Regions from separate parts of the Homo sapiens genome. Here region 2 is linked to region 1. The links come from fine-mapping of genetic effects on gene expression. A gene starts in region 1. The other region holds a variant in brackets. All regions are shown on one strand. Distances are from middle to middle. Region 1 holds the start of SELENOI (selenoprotein I). Region 2 overlaps DRC1 (dynein regulatory complex subunit 1).

What was found. PIP is the estimated chance that this variant, and not a neighbour inherited with it, causes the effect.
Region 2: its variant is the best candidate, but not a certain one, in a credible set for the expression of SELENOI in whole blood (INTERVAL, PIP 0.66).

Annotation. Positions count from the first base shown.
Region 1 is chr2:26,340,852-26,351,464 of GRCh38, reverse strand. It overlaps SELENOI (selenoprotein I), which reads right to left and starts at 5,322. Exons shown (of 10, transcript NM_033505.4): 1 at 5,176-5,322. The coding sequence starts at 5,232. It overlaps ADGRF3 (adhesion G protein-coupled receptor F3), which reads left to right and starts at 4,676. Exons shown (of 14, transcript NM_001321971.2): 1 at 4,676-5,344. The coding sequence starts at 5,231. RefSeq lists enhancers at 4,418-4,517, 4,630-5,397, 5,718-5,857 and silencers at 5,058-5,107, 5,168-5,227, 5,278-5,507.
Region 2 is chr2:26,418,061-26,428,673 of GRCh38, reverse strand. DRC1 (dynein regulatory complex subunit 1) reads right to left here. Exons shown (of 17, transcript NM_145038.5): 3 at 7,274-7,386; 4 at 4,220-4,403. Among named protein-coding and RNA genes, the nearest start is that of DRC1, 21 kb to the right of the region's middle. The variant G/A (reference allele first, on the strand shown) is at 4,860.

The DNA of each region.
Region 1 (10,613 bases):
CAAAGGCAACACGCATTCGGTAGAAAGTGCTATGATATTCTCTCAAAATTCTGGGCAGCACAGCGAGCCACAGCTCCTAGTCAGTAATGCAATCACAAGGGTGAACAGGCCAGGTGTAGTGGCTCATGCCTGTAATCCCAGCACTTTGGGAGGCCAAGGCAGGCGGATCACCTGAGGTCCGAAGTTCAAGACCACCCTGGCCAACATGGCGAAACCTGTCTCTACTAAAAATACAAAAATTAGCCGGGTGTGGTGGTGCGTGCCTGTAATCCTAGACACTCGGGAGGCTGAGGCACGAGAATTGCTTGAACCCAGGAGGTGGAGGTGGCAGTGAGCCGAGATTGTACCTCTGCACTCCAGCCTGGGCAACAAAACGAGACTCCGTCTCAAAAAAAAAAAAAAAAAAAAACAAACAAACAGTGAACAACCAATTCTCTACTGCACTGCCAGATGATTTTGCTCAAGTACAGGCGAATTAATCTAAGTGTTCTGAGCACATTTAAGGTAGGCTAGGCTAAGCTATGATGTTCAGTAGGTTAAGTGTATTAAATGTATTTTTGACTACAATAGGTCTATCAGGAACAGAAACCCATCATAAATGGAGCAGCATCTCTCTCTCTCTCCTTCTCTCTATATAATATAAATATACATATTCATCTTTCTAGACTGAGCTTTGCCTTCACCTCCATCCCCTGAAGGCTTTCTCAACTCTAGCTCCCACTCCCTGGAAGCTGCCTCCTCTCCTCTTCCATAGCAGCCAGCACTTGCCTAACTGGACTTATTAACTTTTTATAACTGTTCATTTACATGTTCACATGCCACCAAACTGAGTTATTTGAAGACAAGAATTTCAACTTAGCTTAATTTTGCAGCCCAAATGCTATGCCTGACACTGAGTAGACCCTCAATAAATGCTTGTTGAATAAACAAAATCAAACTGTATGATGGCCAGGCACGGTGGCCCCTGCCTATAATCCCAGCACTTTGTGAGGCCAAGGGAGGAAGATCACCTGAGGAATTCAAGGCTGCAGTAAGCTATGATCGCACCACTGCACTCCAGCCTGGGCGACAAAGCAAGACCCTGTCTCTAAAAAAAGATAAGAATGAAAATAATTTTTTATGAAATTTTCAGGAACTAGTAAGGTTAAAGGCCAGATTCTGGTTCTTTAGTATTACCATTAAGATGCAAACACAATCTCTCTTTACCACCTCTAATTGTAATACTAATAAATTCACAATTATCATGATTCCTATAATCAGGCTGTTGTTGAGAGCCAAGTTAATTAATTACCATAATATCAAAAACCAGTTCATCATGAAACTATATATATATTTATACACACACACTTTTTTTTTTTGAGTCAGGGTCTTTCTCTGTTGCTCAGGCTGCAAAACAGTGGCACAATCATAGCTCACTGCAGCTCAACTTCCAGACTCAACTGATCCTCCCACTTCAGCCTCCCAAGTAGCTAGGACCATAGGCACGTGCTACCATGCCTGGCTAATTTTTTTTTTTTTTTTTTTTTTTTTTTGTGGAGATGAGGTCTCACTATGTTGCCCAACTTCTATCCTCAAGCCATCCTCCCACCTCAGCCTCCGGAAGTGTTGGGATTACAGGCATGAGCCACTGTGCCCAGACAAATAACTTTCTCGAACCAACCAAACAAGATATTTCACAGAATATTTCCTCCCTTAGGCAAAATGATACAATTTCAAAGTAGCTGCTACACTATCAATTAAAACTTTGCCTTCCCAAATGATGAGCAAACCAGGACAAAAAAAAAAAAAAAAAAACCAACTTGCAGTTTCACCCTTAGATAAGTGGGGAAAAATCCCTCAACTATAAAGACCTGTCCAAGGGCTGGGCACGGTGGCTCACGCCTTTAATCCCAACACTTTGGGAGGCCGAGGTGGGTGGATCACCTGAGGTCAGGAGTTCGAGACCAGCCTGGCCAACATGTGAAACCCTGTCTCAAAGAAAAATACAAAAATTAGCCGGGCATGGTGGCAGGCGCCTGTAATCCCAGCTACTCAGGAGGCTGAGGCAGGAGAACTGCTTGAACCCGGGAGGCGGAGGCTGCAGTGAGCTGAGATCGCGCCACTGCACTCCAGCCTGGGCGACAAAAGCAAAACTCCATCTCAAAAAAAAAAAAAAAGACAAGTGTGGTGGCTCATGCCTGTAATCTCAGCACTCTGGGAGGCCAGGGCGGATCACCTGAGGTTGGGAGTTCGAGACCAGCCTGACCAACATGGAGAAATGCACCGCTACTAAAAATACAAAGTTAGCCAGGTGAGGTGGTGCATGCCTGTAATCCCAGCTACTCGGGAGGCTGAGACAGGAGAATCGCTTGAACGCAGGAGGCGGAGGTTTCAGTGAGCTGAGATCGCGCCATTGCACTCCAGCCTGGGCAACAAGAGCAAACCTCCATCTCCAAAAAAAAAAAAAAAAAAAAAAAAAAAAAAAAAAAGCCTGTCCAAAACAAAGGATGGGTAGAGGCAAAAATAAGGCTGAAATCCTTCAGTATAATTCTCTGAAGTTACCTTAGTTAATAAGCAACAGAGAACAATGGCAGTTAAACCTGATATCTTCACATTTAAAATACAAAAGCACCCTTTCAATATCCAGACATAGAGCTCCTTTTTTTTTTTTAACCATACTTCCAAAATGGTTGATTCTTTTACATTCTCATTCCTTCAATATTTGTTTAGCACTTACTCTGTTCATGGTACTGTGCTAGACCTCAGTCATGTTATTAAAGAAAAAAAAAAAAAAGTCAGCCATAGGGCCTGCCCTCTTAAAGCTCACGTCCTAAAAGAGAAAGTAGACATTCAACTAATAGTCAACTAACTGTTTAATACAATTGCGTTAAGTAACACAATAGCGAATGCAAGTGTCAATACATAACACAGAATCCATCCCACGCTCTTCCATACCAAAAATCAATTGTCTTATAGTTTCCTGCTTCAGAAACCTAATTTCCACTCCCCGTGTGCACCCCTTTCAGCAGTTATTCTGTATATCTGTCAGGTTTCCAACTGTAGCTCTCAGATATACCTCTAGGGAAGATAAATTAAACTACTTCAAAAGTAATTTTTCCACCAACTGCTTTTGTAGTGTCAGTTCTTCTTTACATCCCTCTTATAAAGCATCACATGAGGGAATACAAAATATCTTTTGAGTGTTTTCAATCTTTACCCATTTATGGGGAAAAAAGACTTTTTAAAATAAGCATTTATAAAGCGCTTACTATCTGAAGACAACATAAGGGGAACGCAACGATAAGAAAAAAAGATCTGTGAGATTTGTGTTCAAGCAAAACTGATCCCATGGATTTTTCCTTTGGATACCACTGGATTCATAATTTTAATATAAATGCAGTATTGAGTAATTGCAATAGAAGAATATTTAGGTTATAAATGTGTGCTTTTTTTTCCCCAAGGAAGCCTCATTATAACTAAAATGATATCAACAAACTATTTTAGTGAACATTGGACGCTTGCTAAATCGACCTTTGTTTTCCAGGATGATAGGAAGTCATCTGCTGTCAGATACAGGAACTTATATAATAAAAAAGGGGGAAAGATCAGAACAGAAAATTACACGAAACTTCTAGTAAATTAAGACACTTATTTAGTTGAAAATATAAATCTAGGGAAGATTCTTTATAAGAAAAAGGAGATTTCCTATTATAAACACTGCTCCCATTGAAATAGCTATTTTATTGGCACTTAGAAAGTCAGACCCTAGTAAGGAAGAAAATGTTTTATATGTCAATATTTACCCTGCAGAACAGACAACAAAAGGGGAGTAGAGCTTAAGGCAAAACAGGAGGTATCTGGGTTAACAGCCTTCTAAAATGAAAGTTGAAAAGCACTGGCCCGAGTTACCAAGAAGGCTCTGGACCCTCTTTCCACTTAAAATGTTAAGACAAGTCATCACCTCGGTTCAGAATGGTATGGCACAATACGGCTTGAAAGCAGAGAAACATGCTATGTGACCTTCTAAGGACCCTTGCTTTTTTTTTTTTTAACTCGAGTTAAACAAAATCCATTATGACTTTTTCAGTTATTCATTCATTCCACAAATGCTTACTGGGTGCCTAGTATGCACATAGCACTGTGCTTAAGCCATGATGGTCCACAAGAAAACTCTAATGAGTTGGGCATTATATTCTAATGGCGAGACACGCTAAAGCAGCAATTCCATAAACGAACAGAGCGCACATTTAAGGGGGAAAGGGGCACGTAGGGAGGGCTTCTTTGAGGAAGCAATATTTAAGCTAAGATGTGAAGATGAACGGGTAACAACAAGGATGAAGGGTTAAAGCCCATATTTCAGGCTTGGTCGACTGGATGGTTAGAGTCATTCATTGGTAAAGGAACTGCGGATGGGAACCAGATTTGGAGGAAAGTTAACCACCCGCATTTATTTACTGGGGTCCTAGTATGTTGCCAAGCGCTTCACAAATTCCTCTAATCATTTTGCACAGCAGAAGCTATTACTTTCAGTTTCATACACAAAAGAGAGGCTGAGCGGGGTTAAAATGACGTGCCCAAGACGAAATAAAGAAATCTGACTTTTGTAATCAGGTTTGTATGTGCTCGAAAGCCCGCGCTCTTTCCACTCCACAGCTCCTTCCTGTGCACCTCCCTTTCATCTGGTGGCCCTAGCGCCACAAGCTGCCGCTTAGGAAGTCCCTGCCGGGAGCAGAAGTGGAGACATCAGCAGGATGGCATCGGCAAGTCGCTCCCCTCCCGGGCCTCATCTGCCAAACGATCATCTCCTCCTCCGAAGTTGTATGCATGACAGGCGAGTGGAAACTTCACTAAAATGAAGGCGATTGACACAACAGAAGGAACTCCATCCTTTCGGGGGCTTACGAAAATAATAAGTTTAAAAAAAATAGGAAGGGAATTCCCTCGCTCCATGATCACTGAGCGCTCTCCTAAGGAAAAGGAAATCTCCCGGGGGGTGCCGACTACGGGCGGCGGGCTTAGGATGCTCCCACGCTCCCCGACCCCCAATCCCCAGGACCCGCAGGACCTCCGGAGGAACGCCCGCCAGCCCGCCCGGAGCCACGCGGCACAAGGTGACACGGACCGCGCCGCGCGGGCCCCTCAGCCGCCTGGGCGAGGCCGGGAGCAGGGAGAGGGGCATCCGCCGGCCCGCGGTACCTTGTACTTATCAAAGCCAGCCAGCTGCTCCGGGCTCACGTATTCGTAGCCAGCCATGACGACCCGAAAACTGAGCGCCCACTCGGCAGCGACTCCCGGCTACAAGGCTGTGACACACAAGCACCACACCGGCTGGGCAAGGATGGCAAAGACTGGGCTGCCCGAGAAGGTAGGAGAGCCGCGCTCCGCCCACCGCGCACGCGTAGCCGCCTCGGCCCCTTCGGCCGCCTCTCAGTGCGCAAGCGCAGCCCACGCTTCTCCCCGCCCATCGAGGGGGGGTTGCTAGCCCGCTCGAGCGGCCCGTCCCCCGACACTGCTGTTGTCCAATCGGCGTGGATCAGGCAACACTAAGTCCCGCCTTCCAGCTCTCTTCGTCGCTTCATTTGCTAGCGTCAAAATTGGTGAGCTGAGGTAAGGCAAGAGAGGGGGTGAAAGGTCAATTTCCCAGCGGGCTTTGCTCCCGGTCCCGGGGGAAGGTGGGATTTCTGTGGTATCCGCACTTGCGTGGTGATCTGGGGTATACCGTTTTAGTCTTGGGGGTAGAGTGACTGCTTGCGAACCAGTTCAGCAGTGCCTCAGGTAAGAGGACTTAGTTCTCCCGCTGCAGCGAAGTAAAAGAGGAAGGAGGTCTGTACCGCGAGCCGCTCCCAGCTCCTGGTGCGGTGCGCTGCGTGCCGTAGAAATTTAGTAAACGTGGTTAGATGTAGAGAAGGCCGAGCTGCTGCCGGGGCCACGGGAGTCTTTGTGCGGTCAGCAGAGGGACTTGAAAGACAGGTGAAAGGACATTGGAGACAAGCCCCTCAGGTCTATGTTGCTTAGGAACCTTGGACCGCCTCATCGCACTCCGCTCTATCAAACCGTTCCAAATTAAGATTGCTGGTGTCTCCCGACCAGATAAAAGCAGTGATCTCTCAGTCTCGACGAGTCCTTAAATGCGTTTGCAAGAGGTGTTTTACATAACTGGAGCCCAGTTAATTGTAAAACAAACAAACAAACAAAAAACACTAGATCAATGGCTAGTGAGTATCTACTAATAAAATTTTATAATAGTTGCTGCTTTTTATTGAGCGCCTTCTGTGGGGAGAACTTCACATACATTATCAACCCCATAACAACACTGAAGTGAAAGGCATTATCCCCTTTTTCAGATTAGGCAGCCTGCCCAGAGTCACTTAGTTACGAAGCTCGGAAATGATCGACCCAACATGAAATGAGTTCTGTGTTATGGGAAACCACTACTTCAGGGAGCCTTTCAGTCTCTCTGGGTCTCTGAAATAAGGGCGATTATTTTGAGATACTTTTATGTTCATTCGTTTAACAACTATTTATTGGGGACCCGAGATATGCCAAACACAGTATTATTACTACATGTCTAATCTCCCCTCCTAAAGCATGATTCTTAGAAAGTAATAGATAATCTTATACCTGGTATATGGTAGATAATAAGCTTCTCCCCGCCCCCTGAGACAGGGACTGACTCACCCAGGCTGGAATGCAGTGACGTGATCACGGCTCACTGCAGCCTCGACCTCCCCTGGCTCAGGTGATCTTGCTTCCGTCTCCCAAGTAGCTAGAACTACAGGCGCACACCACCACACCCGGCTAAATTTTTTGCATTTTTTGAAGAATGGGCGCCCGCCAACCAATAAACTTCAGTGTCCTTTATCACACTTGCCCTCGAGGGCAGTATTTGCATCTTATACATCTTAATTTTCCCCATGTTCCATAACCCAGGGGGCTTGCAAATAATACATGATCAACGTATTTTATTGAATGAATGAGCAAAGATCTCTTTGATATGCTGTGAAGTACCAGTTTTGAGAAGAACATTAGAAATGAGAGTCTCGGCCAGGCGCGGTGGCTCACGCTTGTAATCCCTACACTTTGGGAGCCTGAGGTGGAGGGATTACTTGCGATCAGGAGTTTGAGACCAGCCTGGACAATATGGTGAAACCTCGTCTCAACTAAAAATACAAAAACTAACCGGGTGTGGTGGCACGCGCCTGTAGTCCCAGCTACTCAGGTTATTGAGGCAGGAGAATCGCTTGAGCCTGGGAGGTGGGGTTACGGTGAACCGAGATTGTGTCACTGCGCTCCAGCCTGGGCGACAGAGCAAGACTCCGTCTCAAAAACAAAACCAAAAAAACCCTTCATACTTGTAAAACTTAGTTAATTGTGGAAAGCCATAAAATGTGACTTCAGTGCAAGCTAATAATAGTTTATAAACTGCACTTATTGTTTATCAGTTCAGATATAAGCAAACTCAAAATGACATGATTGATTCTTAAAATTGTTTTCTACCTCTGATATTTTCTTTAAAAGCACTTTTTAAAACAGTAACTTTTAATTTTGTGAAAGCAGTTACAATTTGCTGCTTCTCTGCATAAGGTTGTAACAAGTTTGAATCAATTATAAATTCATCTGATAATTTATAAGCTGAAGCATAACCCAGAAATTGGTTTATACTTTGACATGTTACTGGCTGTGTAATCTCAGACAACTTACTTCACTTAGCCCCAGTACTCTTTTTCAAAAAGAGGGTATTTGGGCCGGGCGCCGTGGCTCACGCCTATAATCCCAGCACTTTGGAAGGCCGAGTCGGGCGGATCACGAGGTCAGGAGATCGAGACCATCCTGGCTAACACGGTGAAACCCCGTCTCTACTAAAAATATAAAAACAAAATTAGCCGGGCGTGGTGGCGGGTACCTGTAGTCCCAGCTACTCGGAAGGCTGAGGCAGGAGAATGGTGTGAACCCGGGAGGCGGAGCTTGCAGTGAGCCGAGATCGCGCCACTGCACTCCAGTCTGGGTGACACAGCGAGGCTCTGTCTCAAAAAAATAAAAAAAAAAAAGATCATTTGATCCTAAGATCTAATTCGATCCATTAGAACCTATTAGGTACTACGATCCTATTCATCTCTGAAATTCAGTGAAACTGTATATCATATAACTTCTCTGAGATTAAGTCATCTCATCTGGGAAATCTTGTCTTACCTACAATGATATGGCCCCAGTCTGTTCAATTAAATTCATACAAATTTAAGATATTAGTCATGCTCCATATAACCATGTTTCCGTCAATGAGGGACCACATGTGGTCCCTTAAGATTATAGTGGAGCTGAAAAATTTCTGTCATCTAGTGACATCCTAGCTGTCAAAATGTTGTAACACAAGGCATTACTCACGTTCGTGGTAATGCTAGTGTAAACAAACCTACCGCGCTGCCAGTCATCTAAAAGTATAGCACATATAATTATGTACACTACTGAATACTTGATAATAACTAACTGTCTTACTGGCTTTTGTATTTACTATCAGAGCATATCCTGTCATTAAGTGATGCATGACTGTATTTTCGCAGAATTCTGTGAATCCTAAACCCGGCAGGCATGGTCACGTGGGAAGAGAAAAATGTCATGGAAACAAATTTGCCTTTGGAACTAAGTCACCTTTCTGTTTCCTCGTTCCCAAATTTTATTCCAGGAGGCATTTTTCCCTAAGGCAGCCCAGCTGCCCCGGACTGCTTTAGATTGGCCTTGTTATTCCCATCTGTGCTCTACACGCCACATTCCTGAGTGTAGTTTATTATTGCTTTGTTTCCCATGTCTGCCTCTTCATCCATTGAAGTTTATTTCTTCTACATCTTGTACACTCAAGATCAGGCATTTTGCCTTCCAGAATAATAATCATAGAAAATATCAATTCGTGCTAGAAACAATATTTTTATTTTTATAATATAACCAAAATAAAGTGTTTTAAGTTCCTGGAGTGCCTGTTTTATTTAGTCTGAATAAGAGTGTATCAGATAAATGGAGACAGCCAAAAAATATTGGAGGTTAATTAAGGACTAATGTAGTTAATAACTCCAATATAAGTTACTGAAGCCATAAAAATGGGCAGGGTCTTCCAAAGAAGTTTGTAAAAAGGTATTGATTTAGTTCTCATTTTAAAATAAAAATGAATGCCTTATACACATAAACTCTGGTTCTCAAAGCAGTTTCACATGACTAACAATCCTGAGCCATGGGCCTGATGGCTGTTCCAATTGTATAGAGTGGAACAATAGAATAGTAATATATCTTACCAAAAGTCACCCAGGAAAGAGGAACACAGGTCATCAGACTTTTAGTTGAATAATTTTCCACTACACTATGCTTCTACAAGTTGATGGTAAGATATTAAAAAAAAAAAATCACAAGTCAGTTGTTTTTTTTTTGAGATGGAGTCTTGCTCTGTCGCCTAGGCTGGAGTGCAGTGGCGCAATATCAGCTCACTGCAATCTCCGCCTCCCGGGTTCACGCCATTCTCCTGCCTCAGCCTCCCAAGTAGCTGGGACTACAGGCACCTGCCACCATGCCCGGCTAATTTTTTGTATTTTTAGTAGAGACGGGGTTTCACCGTGTTGGCCAGGATGGTCTCGATCTCCTGACCTCGTGATCTGCCCGCCTCAGCCTCCCAAAGCGCTGGGATTACAGGTGTGAGCCACCGCGCCCAGCTCACAAGTCAGTTTTTAATCAAATTCCAGCATGCTGAAAGGCTGAGAAAGGAGGGTCCCTTGAGCCCAGGAATTCAAGACCAGCCTGGGCAACATAGGGAGACCCTGTCTCTACCAAAAAAAACAAAAAGGAACTCCCCAGTTATTATAGTAAATCTTCTCAAGTGGGGTTTTGTTTGCCTGTTTTTTGCTATATTTTACATTTTTCAATCATAATCCTCTTAGGTAAGAATGTAAAGGGAACTGTATGAGTGGGTCATCAGTCATATTTTTGTCACAGAAAAAGTCTACGCAATATAATGAGATTCAGCGTAAGCTAATACCTCCTACTTCCTATGTTGCTGGGGGAGGATGGTGTCTCTGCTATTTTGTGACTTATTCTCAACTAGCTTCTCAGTGGTGTTTGTTTGTTTCTCAAGATGGAGCCTCATTCTGTTGCCCAGGCTGGAGTGCAGTGGCGCGATCTTGGCTAACCGCAACCTCTGCCTCCTGGGTTCAAGCGATTCTCCTGCCTCAGACTCTGAGTAGCTGGGACTACAGGCGCCCGCCACCATGCCTGGCTAATTTTTGTATTTTTAGTAGAGATGGGGTTTCACTATGTTGGCCAGGCTGGTCTCAAACTCCTGACCTCAGGTGATCCACCCACCTTGGCCACACAAAGTGCTGGGATTACAGGCGTGAGCCACCTTGCCCGGTCTTCTCAGTGGTTTTATGGCCATTTTTGTGGTCTTAACCTACCAAACCAGTAGTGTCAGTAGTCATTCGAAGTCTAGAGACAGTTTAAACATTCAGAGGGACCCAGTGTGATATGAGGCAAGAGTAAAATCACAGGTCTAGTAATTTAGACCATCTACATATTTGCCATTCTTTTTTTTTTGAAGGCAAGTGATTGTTTCTTTGTTATAACCATTACTCATGAGCATGTCTGTTAAATAAAAGAAG
Region 2 (10,613 bases), 77 kb before region 1:
GGCGCCCATCACTATGCCTGGCTAATTTTTTGTATTTTTAGTAGAGACAGGGTTTCACCGTGTTAGCCAGGATGGTCTCGATATCCTGACCTCGTGATCCACCTGCCTCGGCCTCCCAAAGTGCTGGGATTACAGGCGTGAGCCACCGTGCCCGGCCATAATATGGTATTTTTACTGTGCCTTTTCTGTTTAGATACACAAATACTTAGCACTGCGTTACAACTGCTTACAGTATTCAGTACAGTAGCATTCCGGACAGGTTTGTAGCCTAGGAGCAATTAGTTATATCATATACCCTAGGTGTGTAGTAGGTTATACCATCTAGGTTTGTGTAAGCACATGTTATGATGTTCTCACAACAATGAAATCACCTAACAATGCATTTCTCAGAATATATCCCCATCATTAAGTGATGCATGACTGTATTTCTATTAGATAGCTAATAATTCTACAATTATGACAAAGCTTTTACTTCTAGTTAAAAGTTTATCCCTTGAAAAGACATCAAAATTGGAAGAGTTAAAATTATCTTTGTTCACAGATGACATGATCTTATATGCAGAAAAACTAAAGATTTCACACACAGGAAAACCTGTTAGAACTTAAATTCAGCAAAGTTGCAGGACACAAAATCAAAATTCAAAAATCACACTATTCACAATAGCCAAGAATTGGAATCAACCTAAGTGTCCATCAGCAGATGAATGGATAAAGCAAATGTGGTACCTATACACAAGGGAGTACTATTCAGCCATAAAAGAGAATGAGATCCTGTCATTTGCAACGACGTGGATGGAATTGAAAGGCATTACGTTAAATGAAATAAGCCAGGCACAAAAATTCAAACTTTGCATGTTCTCACTCATTTGTGGGAGCTAAAAATTAAAACAATTGAACTCGTGGAGATAGAAAGTAGAATGATAGTTAGCAGAGACTGAGAAGGGTAGTGTGGAGGGTCAGGGAGGAATGGGGATGGTTAATAGGCACAAAAATATAGTTAGAATGAATAAGATCTAGTATTTGACAGCATAACAGCGTGACTAAGGTCAGCTAGATTTATTGTACATTTTAAAATAACTAAAAGAGTATAACTGGAATGTTTGCAACACAAAGAAATGATACATGCTTGAAGTGATGGATACCCCATTTACCCCAATGTGATTATCACACATTGTATGGCTGTATCAAAATATCTTATATACCCCATAAATATATACACCTACCCATAAAATTTTTTAATTTTAAATTTAAAAAAAAAGCTCAGGTGCGGTGGCTCACAACTGTAATCCCAACACTTTGGAAGGTGGAGGTGGGTGGGTAATTTGAGGTCAGGAGTTTGAGACCAGACTTGGCAACGTGGTGAAATCCCATCTCTACTAAAAACACAAAAATTAGCTGGGCATGGTGATGTGCGCTTTAATCCCAGCTACTTGGGAGGCTGAGGCAGGAGGATCACTTGAGCCCAGGAGGTGGAGGTTGCAGTGAGCCAAGATCAGTCTACTGCACTCCAGCCTGGGTGACAGAGCGAGACTCTGTCTCAAAAAAATTAAATTAAATTAAATGTTTAAAAAATTTTAAATCAGTTGCATTCTTATATGCAAATAATGACCAATCCAAAATAGAAATTAAGAAAATAATCCATTTACTATAGCACCAAAAAGAATGAAATACTTAGGAATAAACTTAACAAAGTAGGCAAAAGCCTTGTACACTGAAAACTGTAAAACATTACTAAAAGAAATCAGAGAAGATATAAACAAATGGAAGATATCCTGTGCTTATGAACTGGATGACTCAATATTGTTAAAAATGTCCATACTATACAAAGTGATCTATAGATTCAGTGCAGTCCTTAACAAAATCCCAACATCATTTTTTGTGGAAATAGGAAAACCATCCTAAAATTTGTAAAATTCAGAATCTCAAGAGACTCCAAATTGCCAAAATAGTCTTGAGAAAAGAACAAAGTTGGAGGCCCCACATTTCCTGGTTTCAAAACATACTACAGGCTGGGCGCAGTGGCTCCTATCTGTAATCCCAGCATTTTGGGAGGCTGAGGTAGGTGGGTCACCTGAGGTCAGGAGTTCGAGACTAGCCTGGCCAAAATTGTGAAACTCCATCTCTACTAAAAATGCAAAAATTAGCCAGGCATGGTGGTGCATGCCTGTAGTCTCAGCTTCTCGGGAGGCTGAGGCAGAAGAATTGCTCTAACCCTAGAGACGGAGGTTGCAGTGAGCCGAGATCAAACCACTGCACTCCAGCCTGGGCGACAGAGCAAGACTCAGTCTCAAAAAAAAAAAAAATAAACAAAAACAAAACTGCAAAGAGCAACAGGAATTAAAGAATGTTGTACTGACATAAAAATAGATATATAGACCAAGGGAACTAGAGAGCCCAGAAATAAACCCCTACATATATGACCAAATGGCTTTGACAAGGGTCAAAATGATAAATGAATGATACATAAACCCCTGCATCTATGGTCAAATGACTTTTGACAAGACTATACAGTGGAGAAAGGATAGTCTCTTCAACAAATGATGTTGAGAAAACTGGATATTCACAGGCAAAAGAATGAAGTTGGGTCCTTACCTTATACCATATACAAAAATAACTCAAAATCGATTAAAGACCTAAAACTATTAAACTCCTAGAAGAAAATATAGAGGACAAGCTTTCTGCACATTGGATTTGGCCATAATTTCTTGGATATCACACCAAAATCCCAGGCAGCAAAATCAAAAATAGACAAACGGGGCTGCACCAAACTCAAAAATGTTTGCACATCAAAAAAAAAATCAAGACTAAGAAGGCAATATACGGAATAGGAAATCATAATTGAAAATCATATATCTGATAAGGGGTTAATGTCCAAAATACATAAAGAACTTCTATAACTCAAAAACAACCCAATTTAAAAATAAGCAAAGGATTTAAATAGACATTTCTCCAAAGATGATATACAAGTGACCAATAAACACATGAAAAACATGCACAACATCTCTAATCGTTACGGAAATGCAAATCCAAACCATAATGAGATATCGCCTCACACCATCAACACGGAAGCTATCAAAAAAACAGGATGTAAGTGTTAGTGAGAATACAGAGAAGTTAGAACCCTTGTGTACTGTTGGTGGGAATGTAAAATGGTGCAATCATTATAAAAAACAGTATGGAGGTTCCTAAGAAAATTAAAAATAGAATTACCATATGACCCAGCCATCCTGCTTTTAAGTATACATCCAAATAATTCAAAGAAGTATCTCAAAGAGATACGTGTATACCCATGTTCATAGCAGCATTACTCACAAAAGCCAAAACGTGAAATCCAACCCAAATGTCCATTCACAGGAGAATGTATAAAACAAGATGTGGTATATATATGCAATGAAATACTACGCAGCCTTAAAAAGGAAGGCAGTCCTGTCACGTGCTACAACGAAGTCCATCTATACTAAGCCAAATATGCTAGTCACAAAAGGACAAATGCTGTATGATTTCACTCACAGGAAGTATCTAATAGAGTAGTCAAAATCACAGAAACAGAAAGTAGAAAGGTGATTACCAAGGTCTAGGGGGAAGTGGAAGAGGGAATTGGTGTCTAAGGGGCATAGAATTTCCATGCTGCAAGATGAAAAAGTTCTTAGAGATCTATTGCATCTGAATGCTGTATACTTAACATGACTGAACTATACAGTTTTTTGGTTTTTGTTTTGAGACAGAGTCTCACTCCCTCTGTCACCCAGGCTGGAGTGCAGTGGTGCGATCTCGGCTCACTGCAACCTTTGTCTCCCATGTTAAGGCGACCCTCCTGCCTCAGCCTCCTGAGTAGCTGAGATTACAGGTATGTGCCACCATGCCCGGCTAATTTTTATATTTTTAGTAGAGATGGGGTTTCACCATGTTGGCCAGGCTGGTCTCAAACTCCTGACCTCAAGTTATCCGCCTGCCTCGGCCTCCCAGAATGCTGGGATTATGGGAGTGAACCACCTCATCCAGCCCATGAACTATACACTTTAAAATGGTTATGATGGCAAATTTAATGCTATGTGTTTCTTACCATCATGGAAAAAAGTTTATAACATGACTTGTACAGCATTCTAAATAATGAAGTAAAAGGTTTCTACATTTTTCCATTCAGGAAAAGCAAACCAGTAACCCAGCTAAATCCCAGGCAGATCCCCTGTGGCTGGGCTGGAGGGCCCGGGCCTCTTGCCTGCTGTAACTCGCTGATGAGTTTATTCTTATCTTCTAAGAGTCCAGCACAGTGCAGCTGTTGGGTATTGAGCATTTCCCACAGCTCTTGGGGAATTCTCTTCTGCTTGCCCTCTTCCCACTTTGAGGTGATTTCATCGAATTTGTCCTGGCTGGTCTTAACTTCATTCTCCAGCTTCTCAATCCTGCAAATACATACATGCCAGCCATGCCAACCCAGCTCCAGATGCTGCCTTCCAGTAGAGCAGGTACGTTCTCTAGAATCTCTAGAATATAAGACCCAGGTACTAGGCACTGCCCAAACACACCCGCCCAAAATCAAACTCAATGCTGAGAAATCTTTTCGTTTAACGCTTGACTGTAAATAACTTAGGCCAAGTAAAGAAAATGACACATAGCAAAAACAGATCAACATTAAGGCTACACACACACACACATACACACGCGTGCACACGCACACACACCAAGATCGATTGGTCACCTGCTTCTGAGTAAGATGATAACACACAACAGTTAAACACTGGGTCTCTGGAGTCACAGAGCTTATGTTCAAGTCCTGACTTGGCTCCTAACTGACTGTCAACCTTTCGGACAAGTTGCATAACTCCCTCAAGCCTCACTTTTCTCTTCTGTAAAATGGC[G/A]TGGATGAAAAGTATCTACCTTCAAGTGGCTGGCTGTTGTCAGGATGAAATAAGATGCTGCACACAGCACAGGTGCTCAGCATGGGAGTCACTTAACACATGGTGCTTAAATTATCAATTTTATATTAGCAACATGACCTCAAGTGTCTGGCTACTCCTCTCCCAAGTTACCAATAAATGACTAGTGGAATGTACAAATATGGAAACTCCACCAATGAGTGATGGAAAATAGGGACAGCCTTTCCATAAATTCCAAAGAACCTCCGTGATAGAGCACACCGAGGCTGGGGCGAGGTGGCAGGAAGGCAGGAGAGCTGAGCTGGGGCCCCTCTGGGAACAGTGGCTAAGATATCTGCCAGAGACTCTCTGCTCCTTGTAACAGACTAATCCTATGAGAGCACCTCCAAACAAACCCCCTGAGGAACCGAAGTCACAGCTTAAACATCCTGCAATCCCCTCTTCCTGTCCCATCCCCCACCCACCCCACCTTCCAAGCTAGGACACTTTTTTAATTTAATTGACTTTTTTATTTCAAGAAATGAGAAAGAGCTGTCAGGTCATCTTTCCGCAGCACACTGACCTTGTAACCTGCCACCTGGGACCTTCAGCATTCCTCTGTGGCTAGAGGACAAGGCCTAACTCCTTGCATGACCTTCCCTGCCTTTCACAAGCTGACCCTGCTGGGAATCTGCCGACTCCATTCCTGGCACAGCCCATACAGGCAGTGGGAAGTTTCGAGAATAAAAGTCACCCACGTTTACTGGTAGGGCTGCTAAAGTTGCTAAAGAGGGAACTGCTTATGCTGAACAACTAAAAATATTGTTAAAATCGACCCCTGTGTGTATATGATGAGACAAAATGGTCAAGTGGTTGCCTTTTTTTTTTTTTTTTTTAAAGACTAGGTTTCACTCCCATTGCCTAGGCTGGAGTCCAGTGGCACACTCTTGGCTCACTACAACGTCCACCTCCTGGGCTCAAGTGATCCTCCTGCCTCGGCCTCCTGAGTACTGGGACTACAGGTGTGCACGCGCCACCACACCCAGCTAATTTTTTGTGTTCTTAGTAGAGACGGAGTTTCACCATGTTGGCCAAGCTGGTCTTGAACTCCTGACCTCAAGCAATCCGCCTTCCTCGGCCTCCCAAAGTGCTGGGATTACATGCGTGGGCCACCCCGTGCCTGGCCAAGTGGTTGTTCTTCTAATTGTTTAAGAAATTAATTGAAGAACAATCCAAAGCTTAAATGAGGACCTGCTATCAGTCTACTTCTGTGTGCAAACCAAAGAAGTTTAATTCTTCTAAGCCGCTTATGCCTCCCTGCTGGACAGCCTGAGACCTGGGACATGGGCGTGCAGGGCAGCCTGCCTCCTGAGGACTGGAGCTGAGGACTTGACGCAGGTTCTTGTGATCCCTGTGAACCTCCATCCTTCTATGCATGGAGCCCTCAATATTCTTTAATAATGCTGCCACCTTTACACATAACACTGAGGTATTCGTGGGTCTGGTCATTCTCACCAATTGAAACCCAGGACTGCCCAGTTGACCTTCTTAGCCTCTTCTCTTTTCTTCCATTACCCGCATACATCCTTCGCTATCATGCCATTCCCAAGCACATCATGTGATCTCACACCTCTGCTCAAGTGTTCCCTCTGCCTAAAATGCCTACTCTTCAATTCCTCAAATTCCTATTCATCCCTCACAGCCCAGCTCAACGTCACCTTGCCTGGGAAGTTTTCTGTAATCTCTGCAGATAGAATTAAAGGCCTCCTTGTGTGTGTTACTACAACCCTTTACACATTATCTATTTTACCACGAATTATGGGTGTTTCCATGTGTCTCTTGACTAGACTGTGAATACCACAAACAGAGGCCGTGTTTCACTCCTTTTGTATACACACAGCTTGGCACGTATCAGCAATGTAGTGCTTGAGGAGGGGAGGAAAGAAAAGAGATGAGATAGCCGGGCGCGGTGGCTCACGCCTGTAATTCCAACACTTTGGGAGGCCAAGGCGGGTGGATCACGTGAGGTCAGTAGTTCGAGACCAGCCTGGCCAACATGGTGAAACCCCGTCTCTACTAAAAATACAAAATTAGCCTGGCTTGGTGGCGCATGCCTGTAATCCCAGCTACTCAGGAGGCTGAGGCAGGAGAATCACTTGAACCTGGGAGGTGGAGGTTGCGGTGAGCCGAGATCACGTCATTGCACTCCAGCCTGGGCAACAAGAGCGAAACTCTGTCTCAAAAAAAAAAAAAAAAAAAAGAGAGAGAAAGAAGAGGAGGGAGGGAGGGAGAAGTTATAAGGGCAGGAAGGGAATTGTCTAAGGTGGACAAAGTCACCCTCCAACAATTCGGGAGAACTGCCGGACCCATGGAGATTACCTTCATGTCCACCAGCTGCAGAGTAGCACAGTCCTTACCTTTGACGCTTTATCTCCTCTTCTTCGACTCTCCTGTGAATCTCTCTGATATCTATAGCCACCTGGATATTTGTCACCAACTCGGTGCCACAGAGCAGAAGTTTAGCCAATTTCTAAAAAGAGAGATATAAGAATTTACAAAGCTAGAACACTTTGTAAATAATATATAAAGTCTGAAACATTTTTGCACAACTGTCCGCAGCTTCTATCCATTCAAGCAGGAAGCAGCAACTACCTTAAGATTTTTAAGAGTAGCCTCTGTGTAGCAACCCTTTTCTATCAGGACATTTGTGATGTGATTTTACAGCTCACAATTTAAAAGCACTCTGCAGTTCTTGGCCAGGCACAGTGGCTCATGCCTGTAGTCCCAGCACTTTGGGAGGCCAAGGTGGGTGGAGCATTTGAGGTCAGGAGTTCGAGACCAGCTTGGCCAACATGGTGAAACCCCATCTCTACTAAAAATTCAAAAATTAGCCAGGCATGGTGGCGGGTGCCTGTAATCCCAGCTACTCAGCAGGCTGAGGCAGGAGAATCATTTGAACCTGGGAGGCAGAAGTTACAGTGAGCCAAGGTCACGCCGCTACACTCCAGCCTGAGCAACAAAGTGAGACCCTATCTCAGAAAAAAAAAAAAAGAAGAAGAAAAAGAAAGAAAAAAGAAAAAGAGAAAGAAAAGTCCAGTATCCAGTCATAATATGATGAGGCCTGGAGAAAAGCCACTGCGTTTGGCTAGAAGGGCATCATTAGTATCCTACTGTGGTAAGTTTTTGTCCAATCCTGGGCAAAATAAAAAATTTTAAAAAAAGCACTCTGCAGTTCTCAATGTACTTTATTTATTCACTGTAGAGAAGGCACCAGCCAACTTTTATACCAGCAGATATTGTACATTCATCTCAGCCTTGTCCCCAGCAGATCTCCAAGTGACTGACACTGCCGGGAGCCTTTCGAAGAACCTCAGTTGGGGAGGTGAGGCAGGTAATGACAGTGAGGCAGATAATGACAGTGAGGCAGATAATGACAGTGAGGCAGGTAATGACAGCTGTGCTCCCATGTCCATTTCTCCCTCTCCTTTTAGTAACAGAACACTCAAATTTTTGCTGGGATGTGGCTTCCCAAAATAGGTACCTTTCCCAGCCTCCCTTGCACCTAGAATACTATCTGATCAGTGACACAGGAGAAGTAATGTGTGCCACTTCTGAATTGTGACTTTAAGGGGAAAAGGTGTACCCTCTGCTGCCCCACTTCTGCCCCTTCTCCCAGGCTGGCATGTGGGGCTCAAGTAAAAGGTGATGAGCAGATAAAGGCAACTCAAGCAATGGCAGAGGGAGCTGAGGTCCCATCATCAAGCAGACCCCATCCATGTGAGCCCTGGACTACTTATACTCGGAACTGTTGAGACAGAGAAACAAGCTTCTGTCCTGCTGCAGCTAATGATATGTGGAGTCTTTCATTACATGGATTCTAAGGCAGGAAAAGATTGTAGCTGGCTGCACTGCTGTCTCCTTAATGGGCTCAGGGATTTTGTAATTGGTGCCATCCTTCTAAATCCCTCTTCGTAAATTCCATCTCCAGTATCTTCACTCCTAGCCTTGTTGTGATGTTATTCAAGATGATAAATCCTCTCAACAAAAAGTTCGAGTATCCTTAGGTTATGCCTAAGTTTTTTCAAGTCTTTTTGGAACTTATGAACTCTCCAACTCTCAAATAATTTTTAAACTAGGAACCTATAAAACTTCTACACCAAGGAGTCACAGAAATGACCAGAGACTTCACTTGATCTCACTATTATATGAAAAATTTGAAATGTAGTTTCATTGAATACAGAACAGAGCTTTAACCCAGATATCCAGGGCACTCTAGATTTTTTGTTAATGCCTGCAGTTTTATCACTTGTACAAAATGGTTTTACGTGCATAAGGAAGTAATGGCTTTCCTGCAGTTTGGGGTTATTTTCTAGTTTCTACTCAATGTGAACATCAGAGAGTTCTGTATAAGTACCATGTGCTAACCAATTACTGGAGTTCCAGAAATTTCTGAATCAAGTATTTAAGACTCAAAGTAAAATTAAAAATCCAAATGTCAGCCACCAACAGACCAAAATGCCCCTCACCTTTATGAGATCCAGGGAAAGCATTTAAATGGAGGTCCACATACCATATGTCTAAATATTTTTAAATTATAGTATCATGTAAAAATTGTTAAATAAAACATTCAGCCGGGCATGGTGGCTCACACCTGTAATCCCAGCAATTTGGGAGGCCAACACGGGCGGTTCACCTGAGGCCAGGAGTTCAAGACCAGCCTGAACAACATGGTGAAACCCCGTCTCTACTAAAAATATAAAACTTAGCCAGGCATGGTGGTGCACACCTATAGTCCCAGCTACTTGGGAGGCTGAGGCAGGGGAATCGCGTGAACCCAGGAGGTGGAGGTTGCAGTGAGCTGAGATCATGCAACTGTACTCCAGCCTAGGTGACAGAGTGAGACTCTGTCTCAAAATATATATATAATATAATATATATAATATATAATGTTGTATATATAATATATAATATGCTTTATATATACTATATATTATATATACTATACAATATATTATAATGTATATATGTATAAATATATAAATTATACATAATATATAAAAATATAATTTATATTATATATAAATTAAATATAATTTATATATTATATAAATTAAATATAATTTATATATAATATAAATTATATTTAATTTATATAATATATAATTTATATATTATATAAATTATATATAATTTATATTATATATAATTTATATATTATATAAATTATATATAATTTATATATAATATATATTATATATAAATTATATATAATTTATAATATATTGTATATTATTAATATATAATATATATTTAAACTATATTTTATATATATCCTCCTATCACAATACCTTTATGACAATTTAAAAGTCCTAGTTTGAATTCAGACACACCTCAGAGTTCTACTGATAACTGGGTGGCTAAGGAAGAGCCTGCCTCTGGCCACAGCTCCCAGCCCACCCCCAGCTCTGTCCTGCAGGCATGCGGATTTCCCCAACTGCACATCCAAGCTCCATCTATACCCTGTGGCCATCTGTTAGCCCCAGGGGTTGCATAACATTGGCCTCATCTGCCCTGAGCAGGACAGACTCCGGGAAGAGGCACATATAGGTTGAAGGTGGGCTCAAAGTCATTTGGACGGGGAATTTTGGCTCCCATCGGACTCAGTAATCTAGAGGGGACAATGGGGGTTTGAAGGGACATGGGACAAGTCTACTTGAGGGGATGTATCCGCAGGAAATCCAGAGCAGAACCTGGACC